Homo sapiens: one gene and its partners. The protein of the gene in region 3 interacts with the protein of the main gene of each other region in a pairwise test. Each region holds a gene or a part of one and is shown on either strand. Other genes may lie near its edges. The genes, in order: LARP1B, FAM13C and KIF2A.

Region 1 (7,263 bases), on a different chromosome or scaffold from region 3:
CCTGCCTCAGCATTCCCAGTAGCTGGGATTACAGGCACCACCACCACACCCGGCTAATTTTTGTATTTTTAGTAGAGACGGGGTTTCACCATGTTGGCCAGGCTGGTCTCAAACTCCTGACCTCAAGTGATCCGCCCGCCTTGGTCTCCCAAAGCACTGGGATTACAGGCTTGAGCCACCACGCCTGGCTGTTTTCTTTTTCTTTTTCTTTTTTTTTTTTTTTTTGAGACAGGGTCTCGCTTGAACCCGGGAGGCGGAGGTTGCAGTGAGCTGAGACGGCGTCACTGCACTACGGTCTGGGCGATGCAGCGAGACTGTCTCAAAAAAAAAAAAAATTAAATTAAATTAAAAAGTTAAATGGAACTGAATAGATCATGTAAGAATGTCTTCATAGCCCAGCGCAGTGGCTCACGCTGTAATCCCAGCACTTTGGGAGGCCGAGGCGGATGGATCACCTGAGGTCATGAGTTCGAAACCAGCCTGGCCAAAATGGTGAAACCCCCATCTCTACTAAAAATACAAAAATTAGCTGGGCGTGGTGGCGGGCGCCTGTAGTCCCAGGTACTCAGGAGGCTGAGGCAGGAGAATGGCGTGAACCCGGGAGGCGGAGCTTGAAGTGAGCTGAGTTCGGGCCACTGCACTCCAGCCTGGGTGACAGAGCAAGACAGAGGCGGTGGCTCTCACCTGTAATCCCAGCACCTTGGGAGGCTGAGGCTGGCAGGTCACCTGAGGTCAGGAGTTCAAGACCAGGCTGGTAAACATGGTGAAACCCCGTCTCTATTAAAAACACAAAAATTAGGGACAGGCGCGGTGGCTCACGCCTGTAATCCCAGCACTTTGGGAGGCTGAGGAGGGTGGATCACTTGAGGTGAGGAGTTCAAGACCAGCCTGGTCAATATGGTGAAACCCTGTCTCTACTAAAAATACAAAAAATTAGCTGGGCATGGTGGTGCATGCCTGTAGTCCCAGCTACTAGGGAGGCTGAGGCAGGAGAATTGCTTGAACCTGGGAGGTGGAGCTTGCAGTGAGCTAAGATCCTGCCACCGCACTCCAGCCTGGGCAACAGAGTGAGACTACATCTCAAAAAAAGAAAAATTAGTCAGGCATGGTGGCACATGCCAGGAGAATCGCTTGAACCCAGGAGGAAGAGGCTGTAGTGAGCCAAAATCGTACCACTGCACTCCAGCCTAGGCAACAGAGTGAGGCAACAGAAAGAGGCCTCTTTCAACAGGCCAGGCGCGGTGGCTCACGCCTGTAATTCCAGCACTTTGGGAGGCCAAGCGGGGGCAGATCACCTGAGCTCAGGAGGTCGACACCAGCCTGGGCAACAAGGTGAAACTCCGTCTCTACTGAAAATACAAAAACTTAGCTGGGCATGGCAGCGCATGCCTGTAGTCCCAGCTACTCGGGAGGCTGAGGCAGGAGAATCTCTTGAACCTGGGAGGCAGAGGTTGCAGTTAGCCGAAATCATGCCACTGCACTCTAGCCTGGACTCCAGCTCAAAAAAAAAAAAAAAAAAACCAACAAAGAAACAAAAAAAGAAAGATATTTATGGCTGGGTGTGTGGCTCACGCCTGTAATCCCAGCACTTTGGGAGGCCGAGGTGAGTGGATCACTTGAGGTCAGGAGTTTGAGAGCAGCCTGGCCAAGATGGTGAAAACCCCTTCTCTACTAAAAATTCAAAAATTAGCTGGGTGTGGTGGCAGGCACCTGTAATCGCAGCACGACACCACACCCAGCTAAATTTTTGTATTTTTAGTAGAGACGGGGTTTCACTGTGTTGGCCAGGCTAGTCTGGAACTCCTGACCTCGTGATCCGCCAGCCTTGGCCTCCCAAAGTGCTGGGATTACAGGCGTGAGCCACCTCGCCTGGCTGATGGCAGTGTTTTGAACCAAATAATTTGTTCTTCCAGACCAGGTGAACACCCTACCCAAGGGCAGATAATCCACAGATTGGCTAATGAATTGTATAATCTGGCTGGAAAAAATAAGTAGGGTCAAGCAGTCTTTTATCCTTAATTTTGAACTATGAAGCAGAGGAAGAGTCTGGCACGTAGCTGCAGAGGCAGAATGAAGTAACAAGATAGAGGTTAATTACAGCAAATTGGGTCAGTCAGATGAAACTAAAATCAGACGGAACGCTCAAATTTTGGAATTTTAAGTTTATTATTAAAAGGACACTTTACAGAGGTGTGAGGCTAGGCGTGGTGGCTCACGCCTGTAATCCCAGCACTTTGAGAGGCCAAGGTGGGGGGATGACTTGAGGCCAGGAGTTCGAGACCAGCCTGGCCAACATGGTGAAACACCGTCTCTACCAAAAATACAAAAATTAGCCGGGTGTGGTGGTGGGCGCCTGTAATCTCAGCTACTCGGGAGGCTGAGGCATGAGAATCGCTTGAACCCGGGAGGCAGAGGTTGCAGTGAGCCGCGATCGCGCCACTGCACTCTAGCTTGGGCGACAGAGAGAGACTACCTCTTAAAAAAAAAAAAATGCCGGGCGCGGTGGCTCATGCCTGTAATCCCAGCACTTTGGGAAGCCGAGGCGGGTGGATCATTTGAGGTCAGGAGTTCAAGACCAGCCTGGCCAACCTGATGAAACCCCGTCTCTACTAAAAATACAAAAATTAGCCGGGTGGTAGTGGCGCGCCTGTAATCCCAGCTACTCAGGAAGCTAAGGCAGGAGCATCTCTTGAGCCTGGGAGGCAGAGGTTGCAGTTAGCCGAGATCACGCCACTGTACTCCAGCCTGGGCAATAGAGTGAGACTCTGTCTCAAACCACCACCACCACCACCATCACCACCACCAATAAAAAATACAAAGCGCCACTAATAACAGAGCTAGTAAAGATGGATGGGAATATAGGTGGAAGTACAATCCCCTTTTAATTGCAACAAGGTTCGCCAGGTTGCTTAGGGTTGGGCAAACTGGAGATCACTGACACGGAAAACAAGAAAACCCTTATTGTTTATAGCTGTTATGTATGAATAGGTTATTAGCCTTAGGAAAATTATTTGTGCCGAATACGGCTTTTGAGTAAGCAAAAAATATTAACGTCAAGTTGAATGTAATTGAAGCGACTTATTGGGCGTGGGGTGGGGGGTGGGGGTTGAAAGCCCAAACATAAGGCGAGCACAGATAATTTATTTAACAAGGCTATGGGGTTGGTGGGGGGCTCGGAAAAAAATCAGCGGCGGAACCTGCTCTCAGCCACCTTGCACCAGGACACAAACACTGACTCAAAAATGAAACGAGTATCATCTCTAAGTGAATGTGAGTGCCAAGTAGAAAGCTCGTATCCGATTTATTATCAAAACGTCTTTGTACCATTTTAACATCCATTCCAGGAAGAAAAAACCTATTGGGAATATGGTTAATTTGTAATTAAGTGCTATTTACCCAAATTAAAGAAACAGGTAACAAAAAATTTTAAAAGCCGGCGAAATACTATTTAATTTACTCAGGAACGCTTTAGAACTCTTTTAGTTGGTGGGTGGGAATGCGGGCGGGGAAGCGCACTAAGCCGAACGCTGGGGCAAAGGTTTCCTAAACAGTTACCGAGAGGTAACTCCCCCTTCATCTGGGACGTGGCTCAAGATTACAGGTGATCGCGGTGCCCCGAGGCGCCAGGAGGCAACTTTCACCTGGGGGAGGCGCCGGGCGCCAGCGGGCCAAGCGGCCGGGCCGCGGAGCCCACTTCACTTGGGAGCTGCCCCAGGCCGGGGGTCGACACCGCGTCCCCTCCCTTAGCCTAGCTGCGACCCAGCTTTAGGGCCTAAGGGCAAATCGAGCGCTCGGTCCTCCCAGCGCCATGTGCGCGGCCCGCCCAGGCCCTTGGCCGCCGTCGCCGCGGGGGCAGGCCGCGAGCCAGCCGCGAGCCACAGAGGCCTGGTGCGCGCTCCGCCCCTGAGCCTGCAGTCGGGGCGGCCTCAGCCAGTGAGCCGGGAGTCGTCCCCTTCGTCCTCCCTCGCACTCGGAGGGCAGCTGGGGCGGGGCAGACCCTCGGGCCGGGCGGCACCCGGGCGGGCGAATCCGTCAGCTCCCGCGGGAGGCCCGGCGAGAGAAGGACCCGGTGAGTAGCCACGTCACGCTCCTCAGGGAGGCCCCGCCCCGTGCTCTCGGGCCGCCCCTCTTCGCCGTCTCCACGCCTCCGCGGGCAGTTACCAGCTTTGGCTGCTCGCGCCTCCCCAACTCGGGTAAAGCTCCTCGGCCTCGGCGTGCTGCGCCTCCGCGGCTGCCCTGCGCCAGGTGAGGGCTCGCGGCTCCCGGCTGCGGCTCCCGGCGCGTGGTGGCGGGCTCGGGGCGTGCGTCGCGGAGAGGACGGGGCCGGCGGGCGGTTGGCGCTCCGTTCGGTGCGGGGAGGGGCGTCACGCCGGGCGCTGCGCGGCCTCGGCGGGCGGCGGCAGCGGCGGCCACGGCCGCCGGGCTCTCGGGTTGTCTGTCCCCAGTTGGAGCCGGCCGGTGTCCCGGCGGAGAGACGGGCAGTCGGGTTCCCTGGCCTCGGGGCCACCCCGGCTGGGGCGGCTGGGGCAGAGGGACGATGTCTACTCGCGCCCCGATGCCCGCCGCCCATTCTCGGGAGGATCCGCCCGCGGTGACTGCTGAGAGGGAGTCGCTGTTGGCCGCGGCGAACCGGCCGGCCGAGCAGCCGCCCCCGCCCGAATGTGAGGGCAAAGAGGCGGCGAGGGAGGAGAGGGCCGCGGCCGCCACTAGCGCTGGGGCGCGGGGAGAGCCGTCGCCGGCGCTGGTGCTGGGACGCAGCGTGCCCCAGGCGGCTGTCCCCGTGAGGCCCCTGGCGCTGCACCTGGCGCACAAGGCGCGTGGGCCCGGGGGCCCTTTCGGCGGGGAGCCGCCACCGCCACCGCCGCCGCCGTCGCCGTTGCCGCCGTTGCTGCGGGATCCGCCGGCCGAGGACGCCCGGGAAGAGGTGGCAGCTGGCCCTGCGGAAAAGCGGCAGCCGCCGCTGCTGCCGCCTAAGGGAAATCCCTGGACCAAAAAGCCTCCCCAGCACCTGTCCCCAGACACGACAGGTCCGCCACCGCCCCCGCTGGAAACCCTGGAGGCAGGTCTGTGGTTGCTCTGCGTTGGGCACTGGCAGGGTGCGGGCAGGGGCGACTTGCGGGACTTGCCGGCGCGTGGCGGCGGTAGCGGGCACCAGGCCCGGGTAACGGCAGGCCTCCCCTCCCTGTCAGTCGGAGGTAATTTGTTCCAAGGTGTCATTCACTCTGCCTATTTACAGACATGGGCATCTGGGAAGGGAGCGGCAGGAAGAGGTGGGACCTCAGGTTCTCCTTGCCTGATGGGGGCACGGAGGTGGTAGCTTGGCGGCGCATCCCTGCTGGCGCGGTTGCGATTGTGTTTTGTCCCCAGTGTTAGTGACTTGGGAAAGTAGCTAACTTTAGATACTGCAGTGCTTCGTATGGGAAAGTTTTGGTAGACTTTTTTTTTTTTTTTTTTACATAAAAGGATTGAAGCAAGTCAGAGCAAGGGGATTTATTCGTAAGTGGAAGCGCGATTGTAGTCTTTTGTGAAATAAGATGAAAAAAGGTTTTCAAAACACTGCTGAGCAGTCATATTAAAAATGAGACTTTAAATGTGGTTTTTAAAGTGCTTTATGGGGGGAGGGGGGAGGGATAGCATTAGGAGATATACCTAATGTTAAATGACGAGTTGATGGGTGCAGCACACCAACATGGCTGCACATGTATACATGTGTAACCTGCACGTTGTGCACATGTACCCTAAAACTTTAAGTATAATTAAAAAAAATAAAGTGCTTTAAGTTATAAGTGTGCTGGAAAATAATTGAAATAGGATAGTTGACATGCGAGCGTGGATTGCACGTTAGGTAAATGGTTTTCTAACATTGTCAGCTCTCCTTCCCTTTAGAGGAGATAAGATTATGCCACTATATTTGAATGCTGACCAATGCTGTATGGCCGTCGGTGCTTTATTTTGATTGTAGTAACTGCAACTTAAGAAAGTAAAAATGGGCCGGCGCGGTGGCTCACGCCTGTAATCCCAGCACTTTGGGAGGCCGAGGCGGGCGGATCACCTGAGGTGAGGAGTTCGAGACCAGGCTGGCCAATATGGCGAAACCCCGTCTCTACTAGAAATACGATCATTAGCCAGGCGTGGTGGCGGGCGCCTGTAATCTCACCTACTTGAGAGGCTGAGGCAGGGAGAATCGCTTGAACCCGGGAGGTGGAGGTTGCAGTGAGCCGAGATCGCGCCACTGCACTCCAGCCTGGTCGGCAGAGTGAGACCCACTCTCAAAAAAAAAAAAAAAAAAAAAAAAAAAAAAGTTAAAATGGAAATAAAAACCATGACAAAAAGCAGTATCTGGCCGGGCGCGGTGGCTCACGCCTGTAATCCCAGCACTTTGGGAGGCCGAGGCAGGTGGATCACCTGAGGTCAGGAGTTCAAGACCATCCTGACTAACATGGAGAAACCTTGTCTGTACTATAAATACAAAATTAACCTGGCGTGGTGGCGCATGCCTGTAATCCCGGCTACTGGGGAGGCTGAGGCAGGAGAATCGCTTGAACCCGGGAGGCAGAGGTTGCAGTGAGCCGAGATCGCGCCACTGCACTCCAGCCTGGGCAACAGGAGCGAAACTCCGTCTCAAAAAAAAACACAAAAAAACAAAACCGTATCTTTCTAAATTAAGTTGTAAATGACTTGAACTTTTTATATGCAAATGACAGCTGTTTACTTGCAAGTCTTCATTTTTATTTAAAATTAAAGGTTAGCAGCAGAACAAGAAATATTTGAGCGTGTTTACTGGCTTGTGAGGATCAAATGCGATGAAGAGGTGGTATAAATGTAAGGCGATTGGCTGTGCGCGGTGGCACACGCCTGTAATCCCAGCACTTTGGGAGGCCGAGGCGGGTGGATCACCTGAGGTCAGGAGTTCGAGATCAGCCTGGCCAACATGGCGAAACCCCGTCTCTACTAAAAATACAAAAATTAGCCGGATATGGTGGTGCGTGCCTGTAATACCAGCTACTCAGGAGGTTGAGGCAGGAGAATCGCTTGAACCCGGGAGACGGAGGTTGCAGTGAGCCAAGACTGAGCCACTGTATTCCAGCCTGGGTGACAGAGCAAGACTCAGTCTCAAAAAAAAAAAAAAAAAAAGTACGGTGATTGTTACAAGCACCCATTATGTTATGTTAACATTTCTTCAGAGGAACTCTCCAAAGAGGGAGATATGTGTTGAGTTAATTCATTCATTTGCCTTTGCACAGAAATACTCCTCATTAATTG
Region 2 (7,963 bases), on a different chromosome or scaffold from region 3:
GTGTTTTGGAGATAAGTTCAGTTGTCTCCAGGGCCAGAGCACATAGGGCCTGAGAGGCCATGGTAAATGGTAAAGAAATTATAGAAATATTACTATTTTATATTCTGGGTATAATTCAAATAGTGAACCAATTCTTAAAAATCATAGAGACTAAATTTTACCTATTGGAGGGGTTATACATATTTTTCTCAAAAACATTAATAGCTCAAAGTGATAATCTTCACATCACATTTGATACTCATTACATTATTATAAAAAGGGAAATTACAAAATTAATTAAGGGCTCCATAAATTTTTCCAAGGGCCACTCTTAATCCTTTGATAATTGATTAATTCCTTTTGGAATTGGCATCTCAGCATTCTTGTCAATTTTTATTCTTTGGTTGTTACTGCCAATACCTCACTTGTCACTGGTTTTTAATGTGATTCAAGCTGTTCTGCAATATCACTTCCACTGGCTTCAAGAAATCCTGACTCTTTTGTAAAAAATTGAAATTTCACTTATCAATCAATTTACATTGCATCTGCATTTTATTGTCAGATAAATCAGAGAGAGATTGCCAAAGATGGACTTGATGTACACTAGCATTAATTGGGGAGGGTTGTTTGGATGAAGACCAATATCACAAACAGTCTGTCGCTAGTACATGTTTTTGGTATCACAGCTTTGCTTCCCTGGGCACCTTTGAATCTTCAGGAGCTCAGTTACTGACCACTCAGATAATAAGGACTCTTGATATGCTGTCCTCATTGGAGCTGGTGAAGAAATAGATTAGGGGACAGGGATGGGAAGAAGTTTTTTTTTTTTTCTTTTTTTGTGGAAAAAAAATTATCTCTTCAGGCAAGAGTCCTCTCTTTCACAAGGAAGCCTGGTCATTCCCAAGGGTACTGACAGGAAGCTACAAGTCACTCTGTCCAGGCCAATAGAGCAGGCCTCTGTTGATTTCCTGGCATTGTAAAGATTCTGGCTTCTTGCCCCAGCATCTTGCAGAAAGTGATTTCTCAGAATTGTCTGTTCCTCCAGGGATGCGCAAGTATTTTAAATTGAAGAGTTGTAAACTGAGCACAAAGCCAATCTGGATGAAACCCATTTCATCCGGAGCAGCCCATCCGCATTTAGTAAAGTTTTAAATTTTATTGTTCTTAAAAAAAAAAAAAGCTGTGTAAACACTGCGCCATCATAGGAAGTAGAAAGAAAATATCATCTGTAAGCCTCCTCTTCAAGCACAGTGGCATTGTTCATCTTGTCTCAAGCTTTGTTTATATATTCTTATTTATTATAATAATACTAATGAAAATAAGGATAATTAGCAGCATTTATTTACTATTTTTTAAATTTGTCAGGCATGTCATTTAATTTAATCTTCATAAGAACCCATAAAATAGGTCATTATTATCTTTATTTTACAGATGAGAAAATTGAGGCAAAAGAGGTTGTTCATGTTTAAACTATTAGTAAGCGGTGGGTCTTGAGTCTTGGCAAATCTGGAAATTTCTTTCTTGACCTCTACACTGTTGCTTTATATTTTGCATATAGTCAAGTCAATACATTAGAATTAACAATTTTACAATTAAACTAAACTATTGGTATTAGATCTGATATTCAGATATTGGTTTTAGAGCACTGATAGAAAAATGAGCATTTAAAATTGAGCACTTTTAACATGTTAAGTGAATTAACCATATTCAAATCTAGCATCTTCATTTTTCCTTTATTTTACTTATATTGTATACAATAGAATTGTACATATAATATACATTATGTATTTTACATATATAAATATGCAATATATTTATATTAAAAATGTTATGATGTCAGGGACTGTGTCTGTCTTATTCATAACTATGGGATAGTGATAAGCATGTAGAATCATTTGTTCATTCATTCGTTTAATAAATATACCACTTAATTCCCTTTGCATTTTTTTCCTGATATATTCAGGAGTTATTTTCTCAAAATTCCTAGTTATACATGATGCTAATTGATGATATATTTAACAAAAAATTATTTTGGTCTTCAATGAATTTGAGGAACACTGTTAAAAACAGATGAAAAACTTCTCTTTGCTACCTAATGTGCATTGTGAATTTATAATATGCATCTTTTCCAAAACTTATTTTTGACCATGTAACTTTTAAAACATTTTCCTGGATTTTCTGGAGACTAGAATTTCACTGCCACTTGGGAAATACTGGCCTAGAACTTACTTCTTCATAAACTCAATATTAATTTTTCTGCTCCCCTTTTCAAACCCTCCTGGAATTGTTCTTTAGTAAAGCTGAGGGTCTCCAAAATAATCATATGTTGTACGATATTCATCAGTATTGTCCTATTCCAAGTTGAACAGTACAAAACATCATAAAAGCCAATTAAAAAGCCACTTACAAAGACAATTTCTAAACCTGATTTAAGATGAAAACAAATGTCATAAGAATTAATTGAGAAGTAAAAATTAAAATGGTTGATTTTGTTATATACTGCCAAATAATGTTTTTTCAGGGATGTTTTGGTTTTTATCCATAATCAACTGTATCAACCAGTTGTTTTCATTGTATGTGGGTACTGCCTAAAACCTAATTTTGGTCCTTCCTATTCACGAGTTGCTGAGAATTTTTATTTCTTTTCCTTGGACATTATTGAATACTTGCATTTATTGGGTACATTTGTTATTTCATTTTATTTTCAAAGGGCCCAATTCATTTCATAGAATGAAAAAAAAACAGTATTTGGCAGTATATAAGAAAATCAACCATTTAATTAAGGTTGTTCTTAATTAAATGTCCAAGTCCTATTTCAAATTAAAAGCATTGAACATTTCCATTACAAGTGGATCACTGGGAGTATTTATAGGAGAAAAGTGTGATCTTTCTCCACACTGGAACACTTGGAATAAACACCATAGTCAATGAGTACAAGGGGTTTCTGGAAATTAACAACCATATGGGAAATTAACAACCATGTAATCTATGAAACCATAAGTCAGTCAGAAGGCTGAATATAGACTTACCTTCATCAGTCTGAATAAACAAAGAACAGATCTCACTTTGAAATGGCTAAATAATGAATACAGTGAAGCAGCGATGTCTCTTACTCCTGAACCTAGCTCAAATGAAATAGTAGGTGGCTTCGGAACAAATATGTACTGTATAGTTATACATACAAAGGATTAATATTCCTGAACTTATTTTAGTCCATAGAATTCAGTCTAAGACCATATTAGGTTTTTATTTAGCTGATTTTAAAAATATTTGGAGAGAGGAAAGCAAAATTGCAAAGAACCTTAATGAAACCTGTTTTTCTTTGAAAACTCAATTTTTATTTTTCAAGGTATAAATTTAAAAAGTTAAAATACAACTCTCATACAAACATAGGCAGGCAGCAGAGATCTATTCACTTATTAATGGGGAAAACTGTAAGATGATGAAGCTGGTTCCAAAAGCATTTTGAGGATCTGTGGATTTACAGGTATTTAGAAAGAAAGTTTGGTTAGATGCAAAATGATTATTTGGTTAGATGCAAAATTGGTTATCTTCCTATATTGCAATAAAATCATAAACGCTGCGATTATCTTTTTCTCTGAACAGGCTGAATAAAATGTGCAAGTGACCACAGAACTTCACTGTGGCTGGAATCTAATCAATAGTGAAGAGCAAAGCCAAACACAACTGGAGAATTAACTGGCCCCTGGGTGGACTTGTTAACCGATGTCTCAGTTTGACATTGAAAGGTCATGCTCTTCCCCATTATTTCCAAGTTTTGGTAAAGTTTTTAATTGCCCAATTAGAAAAATTATGAGTTTTTTGTTGTTATGTTAACTCATTAACTTACATAGGTTTGGACTAAAAACCACTATCCTAGCTGCTTCTGGGAGTAGAAAGATTAAAAAGGGGGATGGGAATCTTATTTCAAAATTCAAATAAAATAATTCAAATTCAAATAAGAATCTTTAATAGATGCTACATCCCATATCCAGGTCAACATGGCAGGAGAAATGAACAATACAAAGAGGGCAGAACAAATATCCCCAAGGGAAAGAAGCCAGTGGGGGGACTGACAGTCTTTCCTTTCCCTAACAAGGCTGCCTTTATTCAAAGGGATAGCGTTTGCGGATTCCGTCTCTCCATCCTTTGTAAAGGTGCTAGCTAGGGAGCTGAGCTCAAGCGGGCTGCTCTAGGCATAGCAAGCCCCACCCCTTGCACGGTGTCCTAATCACCAGCTAACCCCTGGAATAAATTCTCCACTCGCCCTGCGTGGGTTCATTCACAGCTCTGTAGTCCGGGGCTGGGCGCTTCCTCTCTGGGACTGAAATAAGAGCGCTCTAGACAGATCAGGTGTGATGCAGCCAGCCCTGCTTTAGAGCCTATTCTTTTTCCTAGGCAACAAAAAACACACACACAAAATAAAACACCAAACAGCAGCAATATCCCCCTCCCCCTTCTTGTTCTCTCCTGACTTTTTCTGAACGATGGATGAATCTCTGCGAGCCTCCATCCCTGGGGGTGGGGTGGGAGTGTGGGGGGTTGGGGTGAGCTCTGTAAAATTGGTAGGAGACATGTGGAAGAAAGCAAGTCTCCCGGGTATTTCAGCACTTCGGCAGAAACACTGGGGCATTCTCATTGCCAGCCTCGGGGGGTGGCTGGCACAAAGAGCCCAAGATTAAACGCGGCGCCTGGGCTGGCGAGGTCGGGGTCGTGTGGTAACTCTCCAGGTGCTCCTCGCTGGATCCCGGGGTCCCAGCCCCGCCGCCGCGCCCCGCCCAGCTCTGTCCCCGCAGCCTCGCGGGCTGCCGGGCTTTGTGGTTCGCCCGTGCCGCTGGGCCCCTGCTGGGGGTGTCGTTACGAGCATGTGCAGACAGCAGCCCAAGGTAGAGCGAGCGTGCCGGGCGAGCCCGGAGACTTGCCTTGCAATGCCATGTTTGTGTATGTGCTCTAACTCCCGGAGAGCAATCAGGGAGACGGCTCCCCGGCCAGACTTGGCTGATGTTTTCTTGTTTCTGTTTCAGCCTTCAGGATAATTCCTTCAGCAGCACCACTGTAACAGAGTAAGTGATTCTTACCATTAAAATTAGACTTGCATGCCTTTCTCTGGAAGCAACTATCGTGAAGGTATCCTCCACCGTTCCCAGCCGCTGTTCGTTTTAGATGCATTGTCTCCCGGAATCTGGGGCTGTGAAGACCGTGAGACGTGCTGACTGGTGGGGCCCAGAAATCTTTACAGGTTGAAACCAGCATTTTAGCAGCTGCGGGAGAGAAATTAAAACCAGCTGATTGCTTGCAGGAGCTCAGTGCTCCAAGATATGTGTTCTTGGAGCTCAGATTTTTAAAAATCCATTTGATGTGTTAGGAAGCTTTGTTGTATTTTGCCAACATTGGTGTCAGTTTTCATGGAGTGCACACTATATACATTTACAGCAATAGAAGATAGATGTGAAATGAGCTGAATTCCAGCATGTGGTAAACAGGCTAAACTTATCTTGGCCCTCTCTTGTCTACAGATTTTTAAGGCATATCAGAGTAAACTTTTTGTGCATGCCCTTTGTCATGTTTGTCTTCTGACTACAGAGATGTGACTATGGGACGAATGAGTCACCTAGTCCTATGGTTAAAGCTGTTGATTAGGGCAACTAACACCCTTCAAACATGGAATGAAGGAGTGTGAATGAAGGAGCGTACCAGCAAGCACAGTATTTTTTTAAAGATATTTATATGCTATAGTTTTAATTTTTGACATCCCTTCCTTAATGTTTTCCTAATATTATACTATATTTGTTAAAAATTAACAGGTAGTGTATTTTGCTAATACTGTATGTAATTTATATATACATATATATATATGAATATGTACTTCATCTAGCATTCTTTCTCTAGGCTAATTCATGATGTTTACTTCTGGGACCTTTGTAGAAGCCACTCTAAACATCTTTTCAGGAAAAAGGCATGTGTAAAGTTGTATCCTCAACTACATTTAAAAAATGTTATGAGTTTGATGTAGAAGGCTTAACTAACTGGGGAGCTGTTTGCTAAAATTCCCTAAAAAGCAAATAAATGTTTTGCTTTTGGCTTCCAAGTCCTGCCACTATCACAATGACTTGGTGAGGGAGGGATAAGGTTTACAGTGCTTCCTAGGCCCTCTTGTTTTCCACATTCTTTTGTTTCTCTCTTTTGCTGTGCTGCTCCTTTAGTGTCCAGTTTTGAGCAGACTTAAGTGGAGTCACTTAAAAAAAAAAACAGGATTGACTTTAGAAGAAGCAATGTAAAATACTCATTTGGACCCACATTCTGTTTATAAGATTGCTTGGTAACCTGTGCTGCAATGTTGCTTTTCTAAAGGCCTGAGAGAAGGGGAGAGAGGTGTGCCAAAGTGTGCATCTGCAGGCCGAAGATGAGGCCTGGACTTCCTGCTCCAGGTGCACAGGTACTGCTCTCCTCCCTTTGCTGTGCTTAAAGTACTAAGTGCTTTCTGGCCCCGATTCTCAGGAGCCTGGTGTGGCCAAATCCTCGGTCAGTCACAGGCACGGCAGGTTCAAAATGGAGACACTTAGCTCCAGATTTCACGTGGACTTTTTTTTTTTTTTTTTTTTTTTTTTCTGTAGAGGTTTCGTGGTTAAATGCTGGGGAGAGCCTGGTGCCTTGTCTTTGGACACTCCCCAAGGAGTTCTGATTGCATAAGATCATGTTTTTACTTTCAGAGGAGTGACAGTGATTTATTTTAAAAGGCACTGAGAGATAATTGGTATGCCATTTGGCTAATATAAAAATCTAAGGAGCCTATTGAGAACATACCAAAAGCTTCATAGGTATAACACATCATTGACTAGGACTGTTTAAAACTAGTCATTGCCACAATAACATTTTCCCCTCACCTCAGTAATATGACCCATATCCCGTGCTTCTCTGGGCATGACCCCATAGCCCTCAGGACCAAGGTGCTATATCCTGAGACACAGACATAGCAGGTTCTCAGGAAATGTTTGGGTGTGGTCTTGGCCTACACGGAGGAGGGACTTTTCTCCCCTCTATGTTCTGGATACAAGAAGAGCTCCTCTGCCTCCTGTCCCCACCCCATTCCTACATCCTTCTACTCACACCCACTTATTTTCTTCGATGCCTGAAATTTCACCTAGAGATGATTTCTTTGGATGAAGGCCTCTGGTAGTGACCCTTATTAAATTGGAAATTAAAAAGTTTGTGCCCTTGGGAAGTGGATTCAAATTGTCATGAATACTTTAATATGAATTATTTTACCTAACCTATTTTCTAACCTGTTATGGTTATGGTTATGCTTGGCCAGCTGGGAGTCCTAGAAGAGTCAAGGGGAAAGGGAAATTGGGAGGGACTCAAGGACAGATTTTATTTTCTTCTTGGTTTTTCCCAGCCCTGGCACTATCTATGCAGCTCTAGACAAATTCAATTTCTTTTTCCACCCCAATGTTTTCATCACAATGGCCTTGGCCTTTTCTTCCCTATCTGTGGCACCTTTTCATCTAATATTTTTCCATGGTCAATCGTGACATTGCCCCAGCTAACTTGCTATTTTAAATGAAGCCTGCAATAATTCTGATTAGTTATCATTCAAACCAGTGGTTCTCAAAGCTAACTGATCATCAATATCAACTGGGGAAGGGGACTGGAGCTTGTGAAAATTGCAGTCTCCCAGGTTTTATCTCAAAGTGGGAACCCAGAATGGGTGATTGTATTGGTGTCAGGACAGTGCTGTTTTGGGGTTTGGAAACCTTTAGGTCAGTGTTAAATGTTTAGAAACATAGTAGTTCTATAGGTAGGCAGTCTGTTTTAAAAATCCACATTCCTGGGCTCTGCCCTCAGAGAGTTGATGTAGTGGGGCTGGAGACTTCTGTTTTGACCAGGTACTTCAGGTAGTGCTAATGCAAGGGGCCACATTTTGAGAAAGCCCACAGGAGGCTGTACCTCTGCAACTTTGCCTTCAGGGAACATGGTACTACAG
Region 3 (7,124 bases):
GGTCCTGGCTAACACACTACAGCTCAGTACTAAGAAGGCAAAGTACTTAGTTATAGCTTAAGCAAATTCCCATTGCAGGTAAACATGTAATGGAAGTGATTTATACCTTAAACTCAATTACTTTTAGGATATTAGTGGCAAAAACTATATGCAGCCTGAGTTGGATGCTCTCTTTGATATTACCTTGATAGGCTCTACAGTCCTCTACACTGTATTCTTGAACAGCGTTAGCCTGATTAAATAAAACTGAAGAGATTTAAAAGCTATACTCAGACTTTGCAAATGTTAAGTCCTTTCCTTTCAACTCATCTGCCCTTTATTCAGCACAAGGGATATATTGCAATATAACATCAATTCTTCTTGCTGTGTGTTCTGCATATCATCTGTTCCTTAATCATTGCTCACCCTCCTAGACTGATGCAATCTTATCCATGCTACCTCTCATTTTCAGTACTATGCTCCCTCTAATCTATCACTAATCACTAACTCCTATTACTGCTCTTAGGAGATTAAGTCCTATAGTAGTTTCCAAGTGTCCTAGAAATTAATTCCAAGATCCTTACCTTACCTCTGTTTCCAGGTCTTTAATAAGGTGCCCCAGATTACCCCTCCTCCCTTATCTTCTTCATCATCCTCCCTCTGCCTGTTTTAAATGCCCTTCACCTGACAGCTTTGTTTCCAGTCAGGGACTTCTTCCATGCTGCCTACATGGCTAGAATGCCTCCTTGCCCTCAGGGCAACCGACTGGTCATCTTCCTCTCACCATTTAAACTTCACTCTCCAAGAAGTCTTGTCAGATACTCTGTTAGGAGATACTACTTTTACTAAAATAATGGATCACAACCCTGGCTATACCCTGGAATCACTAATGTGTGACAAGTTAAGCTTCATCAGTATGTTAGGTGCCTTAAAGTAAAATACTGATACCTAGACTACATACCAGACAGAATCTCTAGGCAAAGGAACCAGATATTGGCTGTGGTGGGTTGCTTTTTTTTTTTTTTTTTTTTTTGGTCTGTTTTTTTCCACAGCCCCACAGGTGATCTATTGAGCAGCCAGAGTTATAAACCACCACAGGCTGAGCATTCTTTAATCCAAAATGCTCCAAAATCTGAAACTTTTTGAGCACCAACATGACACCATAGTGGAAAATTCCACACACGACCCTGTGATGGGTTGCGGTCAAAATGCGGGCATAAGGCCGGGTGTAGTGGCTCACACCTATAATCCCAACACTTTGGGAGGCTGAGGCAGGTGGATCACTTGAGGTCAGGAGTTTAAGACCAGCCTGGCCAACATGGTGAAACCCTGTCTCTACTAAAAATACAAAAATTAGCTGGGGATGGTGGCACGTGCCTATAATCTCAGCTACTGGGGAGGCTGAGGCAGGAGAATCACTTGAACCCAGGAGGCGGAGGTTGCAGCGAGCCAAGATCGTGCCACTGCACTACAGCCTGGGTGACAGAGTGAGACTCCATCTTAAAAAAAAAAAAAAAAAAAAAACAGTTCATTCTCAGCACAGTATAGACACTCAGCAAATTTTACCACAAGTTTGTTCCCTGCTGATCTTGTCCTTCCTTTAGGTAAAATGTGGTCAAAATTAATGCCAAAACCTACAAAAACCTGGAGAAAAAGTCTTCAAAAGTAAATAAAACATAGCCCAGGGAGGAACCTGATTCTTACAGTTCCCGGGCCATAATGTGTAAGGAGTTTATATCCAAATTACACATAACCACCAGTAGCTGCATCCACTGCTGTTTCCCATGCTCTGCTTCCTTGGTCTCTGTTTGTTTGTTTTGAGACAGTGACTTGTTCTGTCACCCAGGCTGGAGTGCAGTGGCATGATCATAGCTCACTGCAGCCTCCAACTCCTGGGCTCAACCAGTCCTCCCACTTCATCCTCCTGAGTAGCTGGGGCTACAGTCACATGCTACCAGGCCTGGCTAATTTTATTTTTTGTAGAAATAGAGCCTCATCATGTTGCCCAGGCTGGTATCCAACTCCTGGCTTCAAGCAATCCTCCTGCCTAGGCCTCCCAAAGTGCTGGGATTACAGGCATGAGACACCACACCGAGCCAGTCTCTATTTACAAGTACCCAAACCCAGGATATCTAGAGAGAAACCTGCTGTCAGGTGCTGGTCTGCCAAAAACTTTAAATTGAATAAATTTGACCAGGTATGGTGGCTCACACCTGTAATCCCAGTACTTTGGGAGGCCAAAGAGGGAGAATTGCTTGAGGCCAGGAGTTCAAGACCAGCCTAGTCAACATAGCAAGACCCCATCTCTACAAACAATACAAAAATTAGCTAGGCATGGTTGTGCATACCTGTAGTCCTAGCTACTTGGGAAGTTAAGGTGAGAGGATTGCTTGAGTCCAGGACTTGGAGGCTGCAGTGAGCTATGATCATGCCACTGCACTCCAGCCTGGGTGACAGAGCAAAACCCTAAAAAAAAATTCCTTTTGATACCAAAACAATTTAAAAGTTATAAACTTATAACTCAAATAGGTACTAGAGTATAGGAAATAGGCTAATAATGACAATGCCAATTTCAATTGGCAGACTAGGGCTATTAGGGCTGATAATGCTGTATTAAGAACTCTGAGGCTGGCCGGGCGCAGTGGCTCAAGCCTGTAATCCCAGCATTTTGGGAGGCTGAGGTGGGTGGACCACGAGCTCAGGAGTTCAAGACCAGCCTGGCCAACATGGTGAAACCCCATCTCTACTAAAAATACAAAAAAATTAGCCGGGCATGTTGGCGCATGCCTATAATCCCAGCTACTTAGGAGGCTGAGGCAGGAGAATCGCTTGAACCCAAGAGGCAGAGGTTGCAGTGAGCCGAGATCACGCCACTGCACTCCAGCCTGAGCAACAAGAGCGAGACTCCCTCTCAAAAAAAACTCTGAGGCTAAATTCATCAGGAATGCTATGAGGGATCACGGATATTGGTCATAGAGGAGGAGAGATGGCATATATGACATGTATTTTCCATCCAAAAGGTCCATAACTTCAAGAGTCTAACAAAAAAGCCTAATCTTCAAAAGGAAGGTAGTAATAATGTACACACAAAATGGCATATTTCTATCAGTACTAATCACACTATAGATGAATCACTTATTTACTTGTTTGTGAGGGCAGGAACTATTTTTGCTTTATTCATTTTTTGTATCTCCAACACCTATCAGAATGCCTGATATATAGCAGGCTGTTAATAGAAGTATATTCAATGAAATCTGCAATAAAAAAAAAAGAAACATAAGACCACATTATTTTGATATGTCATAATCACTTAAGGTCTATACTCCAAAATATCACACACCCTAGTGAATGACCATCTGAACTTCGTGTTTTATTGTAGTGGGTAATGATATCATAGTGCACTATAACCTCAAACTCATAGGCTCAAGCAATTCTCCTGCTTTGGCCTCCAAAGTGCTGGAATTACAGGCATGAACTACCATGCTCAGCCTAGAAGCATGACTTTTAAAAGGAACACTTCCCTCACTCATATTACTCTTGGGAGATAGTTTAATATGGTGAAATTCTAATGTCTCTTTTCACTTAGCACTATAAAACCACTAATATTGCTTTATCTAAAAGAGCTGGAAGACAACTTAACCTGTATTTGTTCTACAACTGAACCAGAAGAATAAAAATTAGTTTTATCCAAGGTTTAAAACTTGTATCTATTCTTAAGAATCGTAATCTCAAAACAAACAAACAAATAAACAAACACCTTAAAATTATTTTAGGTTACAAAACAGATGTGTTAAAATTAAAGCAGATGGCTGAATCCAAGAATTAAACTTTGCAAAAGATTAATGTCATATTAATCACAACTATACTTCTGACTAGAAAGAACGGGGTCTAGATGATCTCTCAGGGAATCTTGTTCTGGATTTTCCACACTCTTGCCCCTTGTCTTATTTGAGCAGACACAGATTTAACTGGCTCTTTGCTGTTTTCTCTAGCATTTTAACAATCATGACACATAAAACAAGTTGACACATAGCCTTTCCCCAGAGTTTCAAAATCTTTGTCATAAGAATCAAGTGGCTAGGCAATGAATACAGATTCCTGGCTTTCTGTGGTACTTTTGGAAGCAATAAGTGCCTATTTTAAGTTTTTTGAGCTTCTTTGGTAGTAGTGGAAAGAATTTTACTACAGGGGTTTGTATGTCTCAGAAAGAAATACTAAAGTATACAACTTCACACCATAATCAGCAAACATCTGTCAGCAGCACTTAGAGAGCTGGGAGTGAAGGGATTCGGGCTTTGGCCCAGGCTATGCTCCTTATTAACCATGTGATCTTGGCAAATAATCCAACCTCAGATTCTTCACCTATAAACCAATAATCTGCCACCTTTCTATCCTGCTTACCTCATAGAGTTCCTGTGAAGATCCAATTAGCTAACATGTCTTGAAGCACTTGGAAAACTATTAAGCCCTAACAAATCCATATACAGAAACATTATCGTCCTAGTCCTCAGGGAAAAGGGAACTATTAGGTCACAAATGCCCCTATTCCATCCCACCCCCATAATCAATCACATAATTGTACCTAAAGAACAACTGTATTGCCACATGGTTCATCTTTATTACTTAAATTTACACATGCTATTCTCCAGAAGCCTATATAGTGACGTGTAAAGATGAACTAGCAGAAGAAAAATGTGGCAAAGCATATAAAGAATTAGGCCATTTAAAATCTTTTCTAAAGATTTTCTTTGCCTGCCCTGAACTCCAAAATTCCTGATGGGTCCTTTGAAATCTTCAATTGCCTCTTGATTTCAGATGTTAAAAGGAACTCTTTACACCAATACTTAACTAAGAAACAAGAATACTTTCCTCCCACAATTTTAGGTTTGGTGAACTTGTAGTAACATAGCACTTCTTACCAGGGATCATTCTAATCAAGCTCTGTAACACTGCTCGCTGGTGCCTTTCTCCGAAGTAAGAAGCAATTTCCTACATCTTGACTGGGCTGTAAAAAGCGGTATACGGTTCCAAAATAACAGAGAATTCCTCCTTTACTGTCATAGTTCTTGATAGTCTGATTTCTATGCTAAGCATGTCAGGTTCCTGGCTGCCATTGACAAGTTGTATGAATCTAGATAAGTCACTTATGGTGATCTGGGACTCAAGTTTCCACATTTATAAAAATGAAAACTAGTTTATCTCCAAAAACCTTTCTGGTGGAAATATTCTAAGATTCTCTTCAGATTACATGTATCAATACAGTCACAGTACTGTGACTAAGAGACCCGCCCCCAAAGAACAATCCCATATTAGCTGCAGCTTCCAAATGTTCAACATTTCCCATTTCTTCCCCAGTCCCCAAAGGGTAGTCACAGCTACTACAGAACTGTTAACAGCACAGCTAAAAGAAAAAAAAAACCAAACTAGCTACACGACAGAAAGATTGTAGGTTTTTTTAAGAGTCAGTGGGTTTTAAAAAGGGAAAGGAATTGAATCAGAAAAATAGGAAGACACATGTAAGAAAACACACCAGTCCAATTTCATACCAGGTTATCTCCTGTGGCAGAGAATAATCTTAGCAGTCCAAGCCTAACCCCTGTCACTGATAACCTTAGAAAACCAGAAAAGTCAGATTAACCTTAGCAGATCACTCAATTTCAATTAACGCTGTAGTTCCTGACTAACAGGCCAGCGGGAAGTAGAGGGCCAGAGTAGGGAGGTAGCAGTACAGAGGAGCACAGATGGAAGGTTTCACTTCCAGCTAAGATGTCATTCTAATGATTAATTAAAATGTTTGAAAACAAAAAATCCAATAATGTATGATTTATTCAAAAACGATGTGCAAGGAATTTTGCTAGACATCCCAGTAGTGGGGGTGGGAATGGGGGTAATGACACAGATGCATTCAGGGAATTTAAGAGTCATTAGAGGCTGGGCACAGTGGTTCACACCTGTAATCCCAGTACTTTGGGAGGCTGAGGTGGGTGGATCACTTGAGGCCAGGAGTTCGAGACCAGCCTGGCCAACGTGGCAAAAACCTGTCACTACTAAAAATACAAAAATTAGCCGGGCATGGTGGCACACACCTGTAGTCCCAGCTACTTGGGAGGCTGAGGCATAAGAATCGCTTGAACCTGGGAGGCAGAGGTTGTAGTGAGCGGAGATCGCACCACTGACAGAGCGAGACTCTGTCTCAAAAAAAAAAAAAAAAAGAATTATTAGTTATTAGTAAGTCCCATTACCCCATGCAGTTTAAAAACATAGTATTAAGAATATGTACCCATAGGTATGAGCTGAGAGGAGTGGAAAAAAAAAAGTTACAGACCCAAACATTAATACTTAAGGAAATATGCTGTCTCATGAATAATACAGAATGATTTAGGAATTCAGATGCTGACTGGCCATCTGGTTTTAGTAATCAGTGAAGACTCATTAGGATAGTTTTCATCATGGTCTTGAAAGATAGGAATAAGCTCATTTTAGTGTACCTGTTTGCCCTTGGGATATGTTTATTAGTGTAAGAGTATCACTGATGGGAAAAGTGTGGTCTGAAATAGGGACATGGATCGCCATCAGCAAGCCAAAAGAAAAACATCAAGTCACCAGTTAATAATGGTCTGAAGCAGCCCTTCTTTACTCATGTCATTTCTACTGTCTCAGATATTAGTGTTCCTCCAACTGCAAAGTTTATTTTTGTTATAATAACCACTAGTGTTTTATCCAATATAGACGTTATGGAAGTGAGAGGAAGCAAACAAGCTTCTTTAAAGTGAAAAAGGGAAAGCTTGAGGGGCATTCTCCCAGACATCAATTTCTATTGTGAAACACTACTGTCCAATGCAAATGATCCTTCTGTTCTTTCGAAGTTCTCTACTAATCTCCTGCCTTCCACCAACTCCATCATGCATCTGAGGCACATAAAAAGATACATGACCATAGGTTAGGATAATAACACACTGTGATGACTTCCCTAATTTCTTATAGGCAAACCGCTTTTGAAATGTGGCTTTAGGTTAGTAGCACTTATGTAAGAACACAAAGCTCTTGTATGTCTGGGAACTTCTGGTATAGGCTGAAGGTGAAGGCTGAAAAGAACGAAAATTGCTTCAAGTTCAATAAATTTAAATAAAATATGCTCCGTAGAA

The links.
Region 1: the proteins of KIF2A (region 3) and LARP1B interact in binary tests that used the Homo sapiens proteins (3 or more experiments, as listed by UniProt).
Region 2: the proteins of KIF2A (region 3) and FAM13C interact in binary tests that used the Homo sapiens proteins (3 or more experiments, as listed by UniProt).

The regions. Positions count from the first base shown.
Region 1 is NC_000004.12:128,057,157-128,064,419, forward strand, and holds the start of LARP1B (la-related protein 1B), read left to right. Parts: upstream 1-4,155; 5' UTR 4,156-4,245; exon of another isoform or gene 4,246-4,537; coding exon of another isoform or gene 4,538-5,063; intron 5,064-7,263.
Region 2 is NC_000010.11:59,359,478-59,367,440, reverse strand, and holds the start of FAM13C (protein FAM13C), read left to right. Parts: upstream 1-4,891; 5' UTR 4,892-4,980; coding exon 4,981-5,042; intron 5,043-5,057; exon of another isoform or gene 5,058-5,542; intron 5,543-6,330; exon of another isoform or gene 6,331-6,415; intron 6,416-7,963.
Region 3 is NC_000005.10:62,309,138-62,316,261, reverse strand, and holds part of KIF2A (kinesin-like protein KIF2A), read right to left. Parts: intron 1-7,124. UniProt on the Homo sapiens protein: Plus end-directed microtubule-dependent motor required for normal brain development. May regulate microtubule dynamics during axonal growth. Required for normal progression through mitosis. Required for normal congress of chromosomes at the metaphase plate.